Linked DNA regions of Homo sapiens. The protein of the gene in region 5 purifies or fractionates together with the protein of the main gene of each other region. This does not show direct contact. Each region holds a gene or a part of one and is shown on either strand. Other genes may lie near its edges. The genes, in order: PTPN5, MAGEB10, TLE4, WDR4, UBP1 and GRHL1.

Evidence for each region.
Region 1: the proteins of UBP1 (region 5) and PTPN5 purify together in Homo sapiens (affinity purification with mass spectrometry; one large-scale study listed by BioGRID and IntAct). This does not show direct contact.
Region 2: the proteins of UBP1 (region 5) and MAGEB10 purify together in Homo sapiens (affinity purification with mass spectrometry; one large-scale study listed by BioGRID and IntAct). This does not show direct contact.
Region 3: the proteins of UBP1 (region 5) and TLE4 purify together in Homo sapiens (affinity purification with mass spectrometry; one large-scale study listed by BioGRID and IntAct). This does not show direct contact.
Region 4: the proteins of UBP1 (region 5) and WDR4 fractionate together in Homo sapiens (co-fractionation; one large-scale study listed by BioGRID). This does not show direct contact.
Region 6: the proteins of UBP1 (region 5) and GRHL1 purify together in Homo sapiens (co-immunoprecipitation; one large-scale study listed by IntAct). This does not show direct contact.

The regions. Positions count from the first base shown.
Region 1 is NC_000011.10:18,730,114-18,732,798, forward strand, and holds part of PTPN5 (tyrosine-protein phosphatase non-receptor type 5), read right to left. Parts: intron 2,590-2,685; coding exon 2,479-2,589; intron 1-2,478. UniProt on the Homo sapiens protein: May regulate the activity of several effector molecules involved in synaptic plasticity and neuronal cell survival, including MAPKs, Src family kinases and NMDA receptors.
Region 2 is NC_000023.11:27,814,490-27,817,989, reverse strand, and holds part of MAGEB10 (melanoma-associated antigen B10), read right to left. Parts: intron 437-3,500; 5' UTR 288-436; intron 1-287.
Region 3 is NC_000009.12:79,724,674-79,727,382, reverse strand, and holds the end of TLE4 (transducin-like enhancer protein 4), read right to left. Parts: intron 2,347-2,709; coding exon 2,239-2,346; 3' UTR 501-2,238; downstream 1-500. UniProt on the Homo sapiens protein: Transcriptional corepressor that binds to a number of transcription factors. Inhibits the transcriptional activation mediated by PAX5, and by CTNNB1 and TCF family members in Wnt signaling.
Region 4 is NC_000021.9:42,848,726-42,852,132, forward strand, and holds the end of WDR4 (tRNA (guanine-N(7)-)-methyltransferase non-catalytic subunit WDR4), read right to left. Parts: intron 1,518-3,407; coding exon 1,324-1,517; 3' UTR 501-1,323; downstream 1-500. UniProt on the Homo sapiens protein: Non-catalytic component of the METTL1-WDR4 methyltransferase complex required for the formation of N(7)-methylguanine in a subset of RNA species, such as tRNAs, mRNAs and microRNAs (miRNAs).
Region 5 is NC_000003.12:33,388,406-33,391,905, forward strand, and holds part of UBP1 (upstream-binding protein 1), read right to left. Parts: intron 1,964-3,500; coding exon 1,926-1,963; 3' UTR 1-1,925. UniProt on the Homo sapiens protein: Functions as a transcriptional activator in a promoter context-dependent manner. Modulates the placental expression of CYP11A1. Involved in regulation of the alpha-globin gene in erythroid cells.
Region 6 is NC_000002.12:9,999,735-10,002,777, reverse strand, and holds the end of GRHL1 (grainyhead-like protein 1 homolog), read right to left. Parts: intron 2,186-3,043; coding exon 2,071-2,185; 3' UTR 501-2,070; downstream 1-500. UniProt on the Homo sapiens protein: Transcription factor involved in epithelial development. Binds directly to the consensus DNA sequence 5'-AACCGGTT-3'.

The DNA.
Region 1 (2,685 bases), on a different chromosome or scaffold from region 5:
TCTCCAGGGTTCCTTATCTTAACAAATGGTCCCCCAGTCATCCCTTTGTCACATAACCCAGCCCCGGGACTCTTCTTCGCCTCTTGCTGTGCCTCGCCTGCGCCTGCGTGACTCGCCTCTATCTTAGTGCTGCAATTAGTGCTGCAAGTTTTACCACCTCTTCACACTCCCCGCTTCACTGCCACCTTGACCTTTATCATTGCTCGAGTGTGGGAGATTTCTGCCTCATCCCCAACTGTCTCAGATCCACAGAGTCAAAATAGTCTGTGTACAACACACATCTGGACATGCTGCTCTCCTGCTGAAAACCTGTGGCTTTGGACTGAATGTGTGTGTCCCCTTAAGTTCACATGTTGAAACCAAATCCCAACATGGTGGTATTTGAAGGGAGGGCCTTTGCGAGGTGATGAAGTCATGAGAACGGAGCCCTCACGAATGGGATCAGTGCTCTTACAAAAGGAGCTTTCACTCCTTCTGCCACGTGAGGACATGACCCTGGAAGTGGGTCCTCACCAGGGTCACGGTGCCTTGATCTTGGACTTCCCAGTCTCCAGAACTGTGAAAAATAAACCTGTTGCTTACAAGCTACCTGGTCTATGGTATTTTGTTATAGCAGCCTGAGCAGACCACAACATCCTTCAATGTCTCTCACTGCTCTCAGAATAAGACCCACTCTCCTCAGTCCTTCACCTGGCTAGGAAGACAACTGCTACAGGGCCTGCCCTTCCAGACACACCTCCTGCCCCTGCGTACTTGTACTCAATGCTCCCACACTCCAAAAGGTTTGTAGGTAAAATCTCAGCAGCACACACAAACACATGTGCACACATACATGCACACAAGTGTTCCATCTTCCATGTCCTTACTTTTATTATTTTCTCACTGGGAATGTTCTCCTGACTTGTTTGCCCCTGGTCAACTCTTACTTATCCTTCAAGACCCCATTCAGCACCACCATGTACAGGAAGCCCTCCCTGAGCACATCAGCTGGCAGAGTGTCCTTCTTTTATACATATATATATACACACACACCTATATATATATTTATATTTTATATATATTTTATATATTATATATTTATATTATATATATTTTATATATAGGTATAATAGGATATGTATATCATATATACATACATATATGATATACATATCCTATATTCATCCAATATAACATCATATGATATACATATCCTATATTCTATATACCTATCTCTAGCTCAGTACTTACCATCTTATACAATGCTTCTCAAGGAAAGAGTCCAAGCTTTGGGAAGCTCTGTGTTCACAGTATCCAACCCAGAACCAAGCTCAGGCCAGGTGCTCGTAATGTCTTATGGACAAAAGTAAATTCCCTCAAACTCCAAGATGCCCTGGTTCTTCCCTCATCATCTCCATGGCATTGAGAAGGTGAGCAGCCCTGCCTCATCTCAGCCTGTCTTTCTGGGGAATTTCTACTCAGGAAGCCATTTTCTCAAGTCCTGAGTTACCTGGCTGTGACAGTGACCACTACTTCTGCTTTTCACTTCCTGGCCCTTCATGCCCTCCAACAAGACCTGGATCTTAGAGCTGCTTGTGGGGGCACTGCTCTTGGGGGCTGAGATGCTCTCGACACCCTACCTGGCCCCTATTCAGTGGGAGAGGGAACAGCTCAGAGGGCCAAGTCTCCGGTCTTGTGCTCAGTAACCCCTGTGGCTGTCAGCATCAATGAACTTCCTTGGCTGCTCCTGGATAGGGCATCAGCTTCCTGATGCCTGGTTCACCTCTTCCAGCCTTTGGGGTTATTACAATTACAGCCTTCCCTAAACATGGGTCTTATTTCTCACAAACAGAATCCACTAATCCCGATTTCAAAGGAACAGTCTCCTCTATTATGCTGATCCTGGAGGAAGCACAACTTCAGGGTGGGAGGATACCTTCTCCCACTCTTCTGGGCTGTTTTGTATTGCTCATATTTTGTGTGTCTTCCTTTTTCTTGCTGTTTTCTGTAACCACAGCCCCCTGTACAACCCCAAAGCAGCAAAGAGTGCCTGCCCTCTTGTGGACAGATTGGGCACTACAGGCCAGAAGCCCAGGATCCCAGGTGAAGAGATGTTTCTAAGGAGGATCTCAAAGTCATGATGAACCCTCAATTATAAGCACAGTGCTGGAGGCTGCTGAAGTCCCCTCATCCAGACAGTCCTGGCCTTGGGTACATTTGAAGCATAGCTAGAATGCATTATGAATGACAGAGTAGAGAGACAGAGAGAGCCCAACAGCATGAAATGTAACTGAGGACTGGGAAATGCAAGGGGTTTGATTCTACCTCTGGCTCCCAAGTCCATTCACCTCTCACTCATCCGTAATTATCAGAAAATCTGGGAGTGACACTGGCTTTTATGTCAGTTACAGTGGACTTGGGGGACCTGTTCTCTGTGGAGCCCCCAGTTAAGCCCCTACACTCATCCTCAGCTTCACCCAGCCCTGCCCCAGGCCTCACCTTGAGGGAGATGAGTCGCAGCCGGTAATCCTCCGTGTGAATGACTTTCTGCACAGTGATCTCAACACCGTCGTACGCCACCTGCTCCTCCGGCCAATACTCGGTGCATTTCTGCAGGGGCCCAGATCAGGCTGCCATACAATCCTGTTCCCTTCCCACAACTCTCTACACTCTCTTCAGGGCCAGCGGAGAGATACACAAGGGCAA
Region 2 (3,500 bases), on a different chromosome or scaffold from region 5:
CTGAACTCTGGATACAGATCCCTGACTACCCCGTGCCCTGAGTTCTCTGGACTTTGTTTAGCTTATGATCTCTCTCGTGGATTCTGGAAATTGTTCCAGTGCCCAGTTTTCCTGATGTCCTTCACTAATTGAGGTTTTCTTGTTAAGGCACATTTCCTGGAACCTTGTCATTCTGAGTAAATCCTTTCTTCTCAAAGTAAAGAGAAATGTGTTATTGAAATATCAAAATTCTAAGGCATATTGTGGAGCAATATGTAAACAGTTATCAATGTATATTTAAAACTCACAGTAACCAGGTACAGTGGCTCCCAACTGTACTCCTAGCTGCTTGAAAGGCTGAGGTGGGAGGATTGCTTGAGCTCAGGAGTTCTAGGCTATACTGAGTTATGATCACACCACTGCACTCCAGTCTGGGCAACAGAGCGAGGCACCGTCTCTAAAAGAAATAAATAAGTAAATAAAAATTAAGAAGAAAAAGGAGCAAACAAAAGCAAAAAAACCCTCACAGTGTATTTTTGTTGCACATGTATATAAGAGAAAGCCTATAATACATTTAAAAATACTACATGCAGGATTTAAAAAATGTGGTTACATATGAGGAGGTATTGAATTTTGGAGGGACATAGTAAGGAAGCGAAATTTTGATTTATCTGTATTAGAATTTTTGGCAACAAGAATACATACACTATTTTCTTGGTAATTAAAATATTTAAATAATAATAACAATGGAATTAGTAGTTGTGTATTGTACAGATAAAGTATGTATGAGATGTAATGGCAAAAGGCTGAAATCTCAATGGCTTAACACACTAAAGGTTTATCTCTTATGCAAATAAACTTTGATATTAATTAATAGGGATTTTTTGCTGTCAGGTGTCCCAGGGATCCATGCTGCTTCTATACTGTGGCTCCATATCTCAGCATGGAAGAGAAGGCATGGAGGTGGCAGACTGGCTCTCAAACACTTTGATCTGAAAGGGAAAAGCATGCTACTGTTCATATTTCAGTGTCAAGGGGGGTAGTCACATGACCTTTCCAAACTACAAGTGGACTGGCAATGTAGTCTCCATATGAACCAAGGATAGAAAGCAAGACACAAAGTGGATGAGCACTTGCAGTCTGTCCAATTAACTATTATAATAGTAAAAGCTCAATAAAAGCTACTACTATAAATTTGTTATGAAAACACCCTTCTTAAGTCTTGGAGGAGTTTCTGAGAATATCAAATATCTTTGCTAAACAACAACATTTTCTAGTGTCTATATGTGACAGGTAATTTCAAATCCAGAATCACACTAATTTTCAAAACGATCCTGTAAATCTCAGCAAGGAGGGTTCACCCCGCTGCACTCAATAACACCTTTCTGCACTGACCTTTTCAATGACCTCTATAATCTCAAGAGACTGAAAAATTTCTTCCTTCTTTTGATGTATTGTTAAAAACGTAACTTGTGAGTCCTGCTACCCACCACCTGATGAACATGTACACCTGAGCACATGTACAGGTGCCCTTAGGCGCAATGAAAAACCAGGATTTTCCCTTGGCGCAGATACAGACAAGAATCAGGAGAATGATGGCGAATTATGGTTTTTCTTTTCTTATCAAAGCTGGCATGTCTGCCAGAGAGACATATTCTACCTCTGTGGTAGACTGAATAATTGCTCCACGAAGATTCACATATCCTCATTCCTGAAACCCATGAATATGTTATGTTACATGGCCAAAGGCACTTTGCAAATATAATTAAAATTATGAAACCGACCTGAAAATAGAGAGATTACACTGGATTGCCTACATGGGCCAAATCTAATTAGATGAGCCCTTACAAGCAGAGAAGTTTCTCCACCTGGAGGCAGAAGAGATATGCAGCAGAGACAGAAGTTAGAGAAATTCCAAGCGTGAGACAGGTTCAATGTCCCAAGTCTGACTCAAAAGTAGAGGCCCACATGCAAAGACTGGACACAGGCCTGGAGAAAATATGGCAGCTCCAACTGATAGCCTGAAAGGAGACTTACTCCTCACTCTTCTTACAACCACAAAGAACTGGGTTCCTCATATAATGACCTGAATAAGCCTGAAATGGGATTCTTCACAGTGTGTCCCAATAAGAAGCCAGGCTTTGACAGCTTGATTTGGGCCTGTGTAACCCTAAGCAAAGAAACCAGCAGAACCAACCCATACTTCTCACCTACAGAAGGGTGATCTAATCAATATGTTATTTTAAGTGTCTTACTGTATGGCATTTGTTATGTCAGCATAGAAATCTACTACATGCTCCTAGTACACCAGGATTTATAGGAATCCAATTTCTGGACATGGTTGATACACAGTTATTTCCTAGGTCCTTCCTTATCCACCACTTGAGACAGAGGCTTCGATATTTTCACCATTCACTTAAGCTCACTAGTGTATGGATTCAGTGCTAGTCTCAAATAAGTCACCAGATTACATTCTCCTCTCTTTCTAACTTCATCTGCTTTCTACACCTCCTCTCTAACTTCAGAGTTATCTTTCAAGGTTAGATTCTGTTCCAAGTCTGACCTGACTCACAGGCAGACTTGGAAAAAATCTTGAGTGTGGTGGAATTACTCAGAGCAGATGAGCAGGTATGTAGTGTTCACTGCCAAAGTAAACAATTACATGGAAGGGGCTGTTATCAGAGAAGTTCCAAGTGAGTGATGTGACAAAACAGAGGACATCTGCAGGGAGTTGGAAAGCTCTAAGTCAGGAGAAAGGAAGGAAAGTTATTCTGGGCTTTCTTTCCCATAGGGAGCAGGGTGCAGCCTTCATGGAAGGAAGCAGGGAAGAGCTGGACAGCAGGTAAGGATCCAGATTTGGGCACAAGGACTCACAGGGGCTGACTCAAGGAAAGAACAGTGTAATTTGGGAAGTGCTGGATCTGGTCCCAGGTGCCAGCACCTGGGCAAAATCAGCTCCCAAAGAACCCTGGAGCTAGGGGTGGATGGACCCTACGAAAATGAGGCCCACGGGCAGTCCCCAAATGGTGTTCAATTCTCATTTTCTCCATTATTTATTACATCTGGATTTAGTACACTGGCCCCAGGTTCCTTCTTTTTATTGCCTAGAGACACAGTGCAGTAGTGAGAAGAGAAATGAATTAAAAGACAGACATGTGCTTCATGCAGGAAGGAGTGCAACAGTGTGGGTTCTAAACAAATTCAGACTATGGTTCTAATTTTGACACTTAATGAACCACGTGAAGTCAGGAAAATTGCAAAGCTCTATGAGGCTCAGGCTTTTTGTGAAGTGACCTTGATAAGCCTTGCCTTGTAGGATTTCTGGGTTGTATGTAATGTATGAAAACTCTGGGAAAAGTGCCTATTATTTATTGCATATTTAATAACTAGCGTTTGTTACTATTATTAGTTTGACCCCAGGCCCTATTGAAATCTCTGTGATTGTTTTTAAAGCAAGAGATGTCCGAAAATATGCAGCACTCTATGATACAGCACACAAATCAACCAAAAATGCCGCTTAG
Region 3 (2,709 bases), on a different chromosome or scaffold from region 5:
TAAACTCCTCTTTATACTGAATCTTCATACACCCAACCAGTAGCAGCCCAAGAAGCCTGGTGTAAAGACCTCAGTGTGTTATGCTAGAAATGCTTCCCAAATCCACATGGCTGGCAATGGTTTACATTGGCTAACTTAAAGCCCGTGTTGATGTGTCTAGTCCAATACGGTAGCCATTAGCCACATGTGGCTACTTGACACTTGAAATGTAGTTTGTGTGACTGGTAAATTAGATTTCTAGTTTTATTTAACTTTAATAAATTTAAAGAGCCACAAATGCCTAGGGTAACCATATTGAACAGCATAGCTCTAAAGCATCAAGGGTTTGAGGGACATGATAACCTTTTGGTAAGCAGTATTTTTATAAATCAAAGAGGTACTCAATAAATATTTAGCACCAACTGGTCACTGTTAACTTCTATCACCTACCTTTTCTAGCTCCTCTCAAGTAAAGACAAAACCAAAACAAAAACAGCAACAGTGAAAAAAACCCACATTACTTTAACAACAAAAAAAACCACTTTACTTTAACAACAATCTCCCTTGAAAAAACTAGGCATTTTTAATATATAGGAGTGGCACAGCCAAAGATAAAAAATAAACTAATGTCATCAAGACAAAGAATTAGAAAAATAAGCATACTAGAAGTTATTTATGTTTAATGCTTAAAAGTCTGAATTCACAAACAATCTACCATTATAGAAGTACTGGTGGTCAATACAATGCATTAGAACTATGTACAACGCACAGTTTAGTATCAAAATCTTTCTACACTGTAGAGTTTTACGAAACTGTTAATGACATCAAACACTAAGCACTTAAGACACCATTTTTTTTTTTCTGCTACCACATTAGGAACGTCAATGGACAGTCCATTTCAACTTGCAGCATCCATCCATTTCTAGTATGAAATTAAGTAATTTTCTACTTATACAATAAAGTATATCTACACGGTTCTTTTGATTTTGATCCATAGCAGCAAAGGCACTGTACATCAGCAGATCCACAGACTTAAAAGATTTTTAAAGCATTCAAACAAAAAATAATAAAAAAAGAAGTCACATATTATAGTTTAACAGCAACAACAACAACATAAAAGATAACACAATGTTTCTGGCACAATGGCACAGCCTGTGTCCATTTCAGGGACATCCAACTAAGACATGGAAAGAACCGGAGGTAAAGAAAGCAAGTCCTCATCCCAGGAGAGAGTCCATTCTTTGTGTTTTTCAGAGGGAGGTCTCTGCAAACCCTCCTCTGCTGTCCTTGTTTTGTAAAAGACTTAACTTGCACAGCAGTGGGAGTCCTCCCCATAACTGTGCAGCTCCCAAAGAGCATGCCACAAAATAACCCATAATTTCTCATAACAACAAAACTGACTAAAGATATATATATCTCCTTTTGCAAAGAAATGTGGCAAAAATATCCAGAAGGGAGTAAGTTCTCTCTTTGAGGCCAAATTTAATTTGTTCATCTGCCTATAATACAACAAAAAAAGGGAACTAAAAACATATTACAAAGACACTTGTCAACGAGTCAAAAAAAGAAAAAAAGTCCAATTACTTTTATCGAATATAATCTAAAGCTATAGATATATTGGTTAACGTTGTCTAAATAGATCCAAATGAGTATGAGTTGGCCTGTTGTGTTCTAATTGTTCAGCCAAATTTCCAAAAGTCTTTAAAAGATGTAGAAAACAAAAACAAAAAAAACCTAATAACAACACAGCAACATATTGCTTCCATGTGTAATTATACATTTCACATCTCTATACAGTCATCAGTCTACACTTAGTGACATTTTAAATCAATTATTTTAAACCTTCCTTTCCCCTCCTTTGCCAAAAAAAGGGGGGGAGGGGTATCAAATACAACGCACCTTCATTATCAATGCAGGAGCAGACAGCTTTATTTAGTCAGTCATTGTTAGAAAGCCTTCTTTAAACAAAATAAATATATTACAGATATAATACATAATTAAAGATTCTTTTCACTGTTAAGTATGCTTATTCCATGTTCTTCCAAGTAGACAGCTGAAGATTTGGTATCACAGGTTTTTAATGACTATTCACAATTCAATAGCAAGTGGGAAGTGAGGTTAAGAAAGGGGATTAAACTCCACAACTGCAATGAGTATCTGAAATCCTTGGTTTTAGATGCGGGGATGGGGGTGAACAAAAAGGATGACAGAGCAAAGTGCTACCAGGAGGAGAAGTCCAGTCTGCATGAAGATTTGTCTTTAATAAATAACTTCATAAACTGTGGCCTTCTTATCCCCAGAGCCAGTGACAATGTATTTGTCGTCCACGGAGATGTCACAGCTAAGCACCGATGAGGATTCTTTGGACTAGGAAAGAAACATATAATCAAAAATGTTAAATACTGAAAGAAAATCCCATGAGTATGGAGGACTTAGAGCAAATGCAAATGTAATGTGCTCCTTGACCAAACAGAAAGCCCAGTCAAGGAAAGGTGAAAGGTGGTCATGGACAGTACTGCTGCTTTTTTTTTTTTTTTTTTTTTTTTTTTTTTTTAATAAGACAGGGTCTCCCTCAGTCACTCAGGCTGCAGTGCAGTGGTGTGACCATGGCTCACTGTAGCCTCGACCTTCTGAGCTCAAGCAATCCTTCCACCTCAGTCTCCTGAGATGCTGGGACTACGACACTGATGTGTCCAATCACACCTAATTTTCAAACTTTTTTTGTAGAGA
Region 4 (3,407 bases), on a different chromosome or scaffold from region 5:
ATCACACGGCGCGCACCTCACACAGCACACGATCACGCGGCGCGCACCTCACACAGCACACGATCACGCGGCGCGCACCTCACACAGCACACGATCACGCGGCGCGCACCTCACTCACAGCACACGATCACACCGCGCACCTCACACACACAGCGCACGATCACGCGGCGCACACCTCACACAGCACACGATCACGCGGCGCGCACCTCACACAGCACACGATCACGCGGCGCGCACCTCACTCACAGCACACGATCACGCAGCGTGCACCTCACACACAGCGCACGATCACACCGCGCACCTCACACACACAGCGCACGATCACGCGGCGTGCACCACACACACAGCGCACGATCACACCACGCACCTCACACACACACACAGCGCACGATCACGCGGCGCGCACCTCACACAGCACACGATCACGCAGCGTGCACCTCACACACACACAGCGCACAATCACACCGCGCACCTCACACACACACAGCGCAGGCACCAAGGAGTTTTGCCTGGTATATTCGGTTGCTGCTAAACATTCCTAGGAAGTTGAGAAGGTTCATCCTTGCTGATCGGTGATTGAAATTCAGCAACATCCCTGTGGCTCTGCAGTGTGTGCCAAGGTCAAATCAAATCATAACGACGTCCTCAATCACCTCCCTGTAAACCGGGTGCCAGCCAGGCCCGTGCTCACACTTCCTGAAACAAGTTCACCATCTGTGCCACCGATGCCAGACAGAGCTCCCTGCGACTCCGAAACGTGTTTCTCACTTCCCACAAGGGAGCCACTCTCCAGGAGCAGCTCCTGAGCACAAGGGCTACGGCTGGGGCTGGGGCAGGCTCAAGCATTCGTGCTGAGTTTCAACAGCCTGTGTGGCGAGCAGCTACTGCGGGACAGCACGTCACCTGGATGCTGAGACGGCGGAACAACATGAAAACATCCACCATGCCAGAAACGTCAGCCCACAGATGCTCCTAGAGGAAGATGCAGCGGACACGAAGGGCGGTATGAGAACAGGAGAAACACAGACAGCTGCCGCCACCACCGGCTCACACGCAGCCTCCGACATGAAAAGAAAGTGCTTCAAGAGCTTCCACTCCACTGGTCTGGCTTCCCTTCAACCAGAAAGGGGGCACAGGCACCCAGCAAGAGCCTGTGCTGGTGACACAGAATGTTCTTTCTAGAGCCCAGGGGACAGCCCCATCCTCTGAGCTGGTCACAACTGATGTCACCTTTTCCTTCTTGAAGGGACATGCCAGGATGCAGGGGAACAAGTTAAAAAGCTTTTCCTAATTTGAGGTGAGAGACACCACTGACCGCCACGATCAGCAACTTAGCGTCGCCTCCCCCGGTCTCATCTTCTTGGCATGCCCGTCGGGCCCAGGCGGGGGACTCCGGCGCCGCTGCTTCTTCTCTAGCTGCTGCTGCAGTCTCTCCTCTTTCTTCTTCAGGTAGGAGGTCACGTTGTCGAACGTGGCCTTGTAGAGACTGCTGAAGCTGGCGTCTGCGCCGGCAGAGCCTGTGATGGGGGAACAAGGACAGGTGCCAGGTGGGGCAGGAACATGGGACTCGGCCACCACAGCGGGCCCCCTGCAGCAGGGAGTTACCTCGTGACTCCCAGAGTCCTCGGTGGACCGTGGGGGGCGCCTTCTGGGACGGCTCCCCACGGTGCCCACCTCCTGGGACCCACACCCTGGCTGGACCTGAGGACTGGCTACTAACAGAACGGGGCAAAGATGAAAGAATGTAATGGAAACCAGGGCACCAAGGCTGGGCCTCCACCCCGCCAGCACTCTCTGCTTGCACGCCCGGAGAAAGCCACTACTGCACCATGAGCCGCCCTGTGGAGGGGCCCAGGTGGCAGGGGACCAGGAGCAGCAGCCTCTGGCCAACAGCCAGAGAGGCCCCCTGTCCTGCCGACAACCCAGACTGAGTGAAGTCGGGCCCTGCCTGGTGAAGCTGAGATGGCCACCTGCAGAGACACAGCTCAGCTGAGTCCGGACCCCTGACCCACAGCAACAGTGAGACAGTAAGGGTGGGGTGCCTTAAGGCATCGAGTGTGGGATAGCATGTTCTGCCGCCACAGGGAATGGACACGGATTTCATCTACTTTATCTAAGTGCCAAGGATTGGGGGCAATGACTGACCACAGGCACACGGAGACAGCCTCAGCCTGGCCAGGAAACCACAGGCCCAGCCGGTAACCCGCGCACCAGCGACTGCCTGAAGCCTGCCCATCCAGCAGGTGGCGCAGCCTCCCCGCCCCTCCAGCGACTCTGCTGCTTGTGGGACACTCTAGCAGCAGCCCTCCCCGGTCCCTCTCCCAACGCAGGCCCCCAAGTCTGCGCCGGGAACAGGCTGCTCTATCTATGGAACATCTCAGGAGAGCGAGCCCAGGCTTTGGCCTGAGACTGTTGTGCAAGGTGACACTCAACAGGTCTATGCTGTCCGTGGCCTAGAGCACGGGGGCCATGAGCACTGCAGATGCCCGGCCATGAGCACTGCCGCCTGCAGTCCCTGACACAGCCAGTGACAGGCCCACTCTGAAGTGTTCCTAAAGCAGATCCCAACCACGCTGGGGGGCCCAACCCTGCCCGTCTCAACCCTCAACATCCTAAGCAAAGCAGGAGGGAGAGAAGCCTCAGAGGCAGAGCCAGCGTGCCGCCACTCGGGGAGCCTGGCAGAAGGCGGCTGGGCCCCAATCAGCGGAAACTCCTCCGACCTCAGTGTGAATCCCTCCAGAGCTCCAAGGAACCTCAGTGCTCACTGCAGTGGGGTTTAGCTTTGCAAGACTTCAGAGCAGCAACTTCTTGTCGTGAATGAGGCACCTGGATTCCATGCTGGGCTAATCCATCCTGCAGACACCATCACCTCCAAGACTGCAAGGTGCTGGCACAACGACGCACCCAGAACTACAGTGTGTCGTGTCCCCAGAAGGCAGGGTAGAAAATGTTCGTCCAGCTCCTCCCTCAGCCTGGCTGCTCTCCTTCCTGCAGCCGCAGCCACGGGAGTTGCTGGCTAGATTCCCTCCCCTCAGCTGAGTGTTCCTGTCAGGACAGTGACCATCCTGCCCCTGCTCAGCCTCCTGAAGACCCCCGGGGCCTCTGGCTAGACCCCCACTAAACCTCCCAGTGAGGCCCTGCACTTACTGACGCCCACTGCAGTGGGATCAATTCCCTCAACACCATGGACCAGGCATGAGGCAGCACAGCACCAGCTCCCTCTGGGAGCCACCAGCTGCCAGCCCTGCCCTGGGGACCTTCAACGCCCAACTCTGAAGGCAGGTGCTCAGACCCTGAGCCCCCGGTTCCTAAGTGGCTCTCGTTAGCCTGACTCCCATGGGGGGCTCCTTCTTCTGCTGTGCGTCACCCACCTCCTGCCCTGCCCCGCCTTCTGGATGGGGACACAC
Region 5 (3,500 bases):
CAAATTTGCTGGTGCCAAAATTTATTTAGCCTGTTTCACTGGGACAAACTCACGTTCAATGCCACTCAGTATAATTTCAAGTCTGATAAGCATCTAAGTATTTTTACCCCGCTTCTAAAACCTGATGAGGAATTCAAAATAAGCACACAGCATTAAATGACATTTATTGTTCCATAAATCTTGAGACCCAAAAAGGAATGCTAAATAGACAAGCAAAACTTTTAAAACAAACGAGATAAACTCACTTCTTTCCCCAGTGACTGGTACAGAAAACATGTGGTCACACGAAAGCAAAGGGAAAAAGTCAGAAAGGAAAACTCTCTGCCTATAGGATCTATAGGAGTTACAGATATTTTCAAATCGATGATGAAAATAGATCGTGCTTCTTTGTAGCAAATAATTAACCCCCTTTATGAATAAAACATAAAATGTCAAAGCTTTTACTCACTGAAGTAGTTTGTCTTCTGGGAGAGATTTCAAACTCAAAATTACTCATTTCCTATTTTTTGCCTGAACACAATGAGGATCAAATAGTACATTCAAATCAGGACACCTGGGTATATGGACAAAGATATCCTACAATTAAAATGGAATAGAAGTTAAAAAAAAAATTCAGTCCCCTACACCACAGGCCTCAAACATGCTTGCTGATGGATTCTGGGAAGGTTTTGGATGAAGGACGGAGATATGGGAGGAAAGTGAGAAAACAGTGGATTCCCTTTGAAAAGTATGCTAGCAGACAAGCATTTGGTTTTATGAAAGAGGCACTCTTATAGAGAAAGAAGCTAGTATGTGGTGTATAAAAAGCCCCTAAATCATCACCAGAATGTCTATCCATGATTGTACTAAAGCTCAATATTTGAGAGGCTTAAGGGATTTGTATGGTACATTTTAGTGTTTGATTGATAACATCTAGTGTTTCCAGAAAAAAATTCATCTTGTTCATAATGAAGATCCCTTAACACCTAGTCAGAAGCTATCAACAATAATACTTTCTCCCCCTACTTGGGTCACCTATTTCCAATGTCTGGGGTAGGGCTTTAAAAATGTTTAATAGGATGGTGGGGGTGGGGGGTTAGGGTGGGGGTGGTCAGAGATGGAGGGAGAGAGGGAAGAAAATGAGAGAAAAACCACGAGTTTAAAAGGCAAGGAATCTCCAAAAATGAAAACCAGAAACTAAAATGCTAAAAATGGAAGCAGAAGCAAAAAAGTTTTTCAATAAATCTGTGACAAAGCCAAAACACAAAAGTCTTTGTACCTATTAGGATTTACACTGATCCTCTCACCAAGGTACTCCTGATAATGCAGTTTGCTTCAAGCCCATCTTCCTGGCTTGGATCTTCTCCAATCTGGCATGATCATATCAAACGTACACCCTCAGACATGATTTCTTCCAAGAAGGTGCCGAGCCTCTTACCTGACCACCAACGGCCACATCAGCACAACACAACTCTCCGCATACAGATTCACTGCTGGCCCCACAACAGCACTGTCCCCCATCTCCTCTCCAGGTCAGCATAAGGTTCAGGCAATAAAAGCCAAACTGGCACAGAAAGGTAAATGCCCACAGTAAGTTTCTACATTCATTTCCAAACCGCATACAGTGTAAAAAGACAGCAAAGGCTGCTTCTAGGAACTGTATTTACTGGCCTCTGCCAGAGCAGCAGGCAGCTATGCCTGCACCGTGGCCTCCAGAGCTGGATGCATGCTGTGCCGATGTGCTCACTCTCATGAGGATGCTTGGCTATGGCAGTGACAGTGAGGAGATTCACCTCTCATACAGCTCATTAGAAAGGTCATCTTGTGTTTTCAATATGAAACATTTCATATGGTAAAATCCAATCCCAAGACTTCTTGGATTCAGTCTTCACACACTTTTAAGCGTGACTATTTGGTACTGAATACAGTTCAGTCTATATAAGACATCACTTCAAAATTATGTGGATGCCATCACTACTTTCAGCTGCAGAAAAAGGAAAGACAGTATTTCTTCAGTCAGGCTTAGGAAATTAAGCCTATTAAATGGAAAACTCCCTGCCAACTACAACCTCCCTTCCCAATTCAGAGGTTACCTTTAAATGATTCTAGAGAAACAAGCAGATTAACTTGCTCTAGCTCCTCTTCCCCCAAAAAACTTCATGTACACATTCCCTTTTTAGACATTCTGCGAAGCCTGGCCCACTATCAACGCCCGCATTCCAACACTGTCTGCCAGTTCTGGGGGTAGGGGGACATCTATCAAGACACACAATAATAGTGCTGTCCATAAGGGGAGCAAGAGCTAGAAGGAGAACAGGTGAAATATACTGTGTCAGGGCAGAGGACCTGAGGGAGTAAATGCAAATGTGTACATCTACCTTTTCCAGAAAAATTTCTGAGCTACTCACAGAGATTTCAAACATTTTAAAACTGTATCATTCCTTTTGCCTAGTGTTTCTCAGTAAATAGTGAGAAGCAATATAGGCATTCATAAAAAAATGATTTTTCTCATGACGACAAAGTTTAAAAAAAAAAACAAAACAGTAAATTGAGATTAGAGGGGAGATCCTATGATTTCTAATACCAAAAAATGTCTGCTGGTTTCACAAAACAAAACTATGCAATTATAGTATATGTCTTCTTTTTCAGACAATGTCAGTTATGCAAGGTAAAAACTGTACTGCTGTGAAAACAAAAGACTGAGCAGAAGGGTACTAGGCTAAAGATGTTTCTGAAAGAGTGAACCAGTTCAGAGTTAAAACTCAGCCTTGCAGGTAACCTGATGGCATACGCAACATGTGAGGCGCAAAATAAAATCAGTATTTCAGTAGTCTGGGGACACCTGACACACATGACATCTCCCTCTTCTAGGGGCAGCTTTTGTGCTAAGACCGGATTTGGATCTTAGCTCACCTGACTTTTAAAACAGTCTATGAATGTATGATCTCTTCTCAAATAATTTTACATTTAGGAATCCCTCCTCTTTAATGTTGGAGCCACCTAAGCCTGGTCCTGGCTCTTTTCATATTCTCTCCCTAAATGACCTTAACAACTTCTACAGCTTTGAGTCACTGCTGATATGCTGAAGGTTTCCAAATTTACATCTCAAGCCCAGGCCTCTTCTCTGAGCCCCAGACTGGTAATAGTCAACTGCCTACTTGACATTTCTACATATCCAAAATCAAACTCTTGGTTGATTTACCCCAACCATACTTACCTCTTCAATGAGATCACCATCTGCCCAGTTACTTTCCACAGAAAATAAGGTGTCAGAACTATTCCTCCCTCAAAAGTGGAGCCCACTGGGACCCTGTCTATAAACGTGTAAGATACCATCACCTTTCACCTGGATATCTCCTGCCTCGTTTTGCCACCTTCTCATCTGTCTCCACAGAGTTGTGAAAGTGAAAGAAAAATCTAGTCACATTACTACTCCTTTGTTTAAACAACTTCAGTGACAACCCAATGCATTTCAAGTAAATCCGAACTACCATCATCATCCGGTCCCCGCATGCCAGACC
Region 6 (3,043 bases), on a different chromosome or scaffold from region 5:
TCTCCACTTTGGCCCGAGGGTTACTGTGAAAAGTGCAGATGTCCCAGGAGCCCTATCAGGGAGTTTACGTCATTAATCTGATCTTGTATCCATTAAAAATATATCCTAGTGTCTATCATATTTAGGCCCTGGATTACCCTGGAATATGTTCAGGACGCCTGTTTTAGAGATTCTAATGATTTAAATATTGGTAAATTTTTAAACTAAGTATTTTCTGTTAGGCTTTTAAACACTAAGAATACTAAGATTTTAGGTATGAAAGCATTTACCTTCAGCTTTAGTGGTTAAATTTTGGTAAGAATTGGAAAATCATTCAGGGATCCCTGACTTAACAATTACGTGGATCATTTCAGGCATCAGTAAGGAAAAGTTAACATGAAGAAAACAACCTAAGCGCACACATTAAGAAATAAGCAGAAAGTGCTAGCAATGAGATGCTTTTCAGCTCTCACGTTTTACTGAGCAGTGCAAAGTCAAATTGAAAAACAGGAAATGACATATTACGAAATAGACATATAAAATTTAATTCCTTTGGTTTAAAATACATCTTCAATGATACAATTAAAAATAACACGCAAGACAAAATCAACTTCATAAAAAATACAAAAGTTATATGACCCATATCCCATATCTTATCTTAGAAAACCAGCAATTTAGTTCCCATACTTCATTAGAATACTTTAACCTAAGACTGTAACTACCAGTCCATTTACACGAATGACCTAGTCTAGTTCCCTGAACCTAAAGATACCCGTGACTTTGTTATAAAATTACATATTTTAGTATTTTTATATACTTAAATGTGTACAAAATGTTCCCCTGCCATAGTAACATATTTTTGTGAATTCATGAATGTTTTCTAGAATTGTTAACATACAAGATAATCAAAGCACGAAGGCTCTGATGCGTGATAAAATAATCATTTCTCAAAACAGGAAGATGAGAACTGCATTTCGAGTTGTATCACTTGGTACGCAATACTTGCAATCTGTGTGCTGTAATTACAGTGTTTCTTCACTCTAAGTGCATCTGACTGATACTAGCATAACAAAAGACGTGATTGCAGTAGTGTTTTTCTTTTACTTCATTTGTTAAACAGTGCAGAAATCCAAATAACAACATTCTCAACAGCAAACAGAATCTCTGTCATTTGAGAAGGTTTTGCTATGCTACAGAATGCCTGTGTTTGGAAAAACAGAGAAAAAGGTTTTTAGCGGGTTCCACTAAGCACAGTATTCTATCTGCTTGGTATACACGATCAAAAAATAACTTAACCTTTGTCTAGGGAAAGTCTTTAAGGTAGCTCTTACTGCATATCTTCACTATATGTACACAGACACCATATTTATATATTATATATTTATATAAGACATGTATGTACACATTTACAGACCTTCAAAAATATATTGCACTTATATACAATGCAGCTTTATCTTAACTGATTTCATACTGTAACCCATTAAAATTCTTCATGAGAAAGGCAGTTGATATGTCCGAGAAAGTCGCAAAGGAAGATTTCAGTAACATGCCCTGTTTAGTAAACATCTGGTGGAGAGTGAGAGGGTAAGGGAGAGAGGGCTCCCCCCGTACTCTTCAGGTGCGCTCCCGCTAACGTGAGGCAGTGGAGTTGTACTGAATTCAGGCAAGGGCACGAAATCCTTAAAGCCAAGCCTATCGCCTTTTCTGACTTCTGCTAGCGAGCAGGCCCACGACACTGTAGGCACAAGGCAGAGATCCCAATATTTTGATAAATAACGTAGCAGATGTCCTAAAGCTTCCCAGAGACTCTGTTAACTCTTGGAATAAAGTTTTCACTTTAAATCCTGTATATATCAGGAAATTCAAACATAATGGTATATGGATTTCTCTTTCATCTGAAAAACACCAATGCAATAGATTAAATGCTACCACCAAGCCAGATGCAGCCCCGCCTCCAACCTGCAAGGAACCCATTCCCTCGACATAGACCTGTGCTGGCGACATGGCTGACTGGGGTTACCTGCAGTTGCCAAACCGTAAGATCTAGAAACACCTGCACTGAACTCCTGGGGAGCTGTGGCCCGCAGGCCTTTAGATCTCCGTCAGGGTGAGCTTGTAAGACCCCCCGGCTTCTTCAATCTGCAGCTGGAAGGTGTCCTCATTGGAGTAATGCTTCACAATGTTGTCGTCCATGTTCACCAGGATCCTGGATGGGGGGGGACAAGACCAACCAACTTCACTGCCACTTGGTCCTGGAGTCAGACCTAGATTGACCTGTTAGCTCTCCCACTTACTAGTTGCAGCATGTGAGGCAAATTATTTAAATCTCCTTAAGCCTCAACTTCCTCATCTATAAAATGGGGATAATAATAGTACCCATCTTATAGGATTGCTGAGAGAATTGAGTTAGGAGGAAATCAGGTGATATATTTATATCATAGCATTTGGAAAATGAAATATACTGGCTTATTTATGATTATTATTTCCAGCATGTATTTCATAGTTGTCACTTGGTAAATGGTACTTGGCTCATACCTGTGATGCCAGCACTTTGGGACGCTGAGGCAGGAGAATCACTTGAGCCCAAGAGTTTGAGACCAGCCTGGATAACATAGCAAGATCCCATTTCTACAGAAAAATTTTAAAAACTAGCTGGACATGGTGGTACATGCCTGTAGTCCCTGCTACTTGGGAAGCTGAGGTGAAAGGATGGCCTGAGCCCAGGAGTTCAAGGCTACAGTGAGCTCTGATTGCACCACTGTACTCCAGCCTGGGCGATAGAGTGAAACCATCTCTAAATGAATAAAGCAAAAGCACATCAATAACACTAACTTACATGATGTGAAGTCACAGCCCCCTGACAAATTACACACTCCAGCAAGTGAGCCTCAAAGTTTAAATGAACTACTATTATCAAACAAAAAATAAAGAATACAAAAACAAGAAAATAAACAAAAATAAATTAACTACTATTAAGTCCAACTCTTTCCACTAGAACCATCTAGAAATTTCCCATTAGAATTTGTTTTAAAACTAAGCCAAAAAATTCTTATGCTAGCCACTG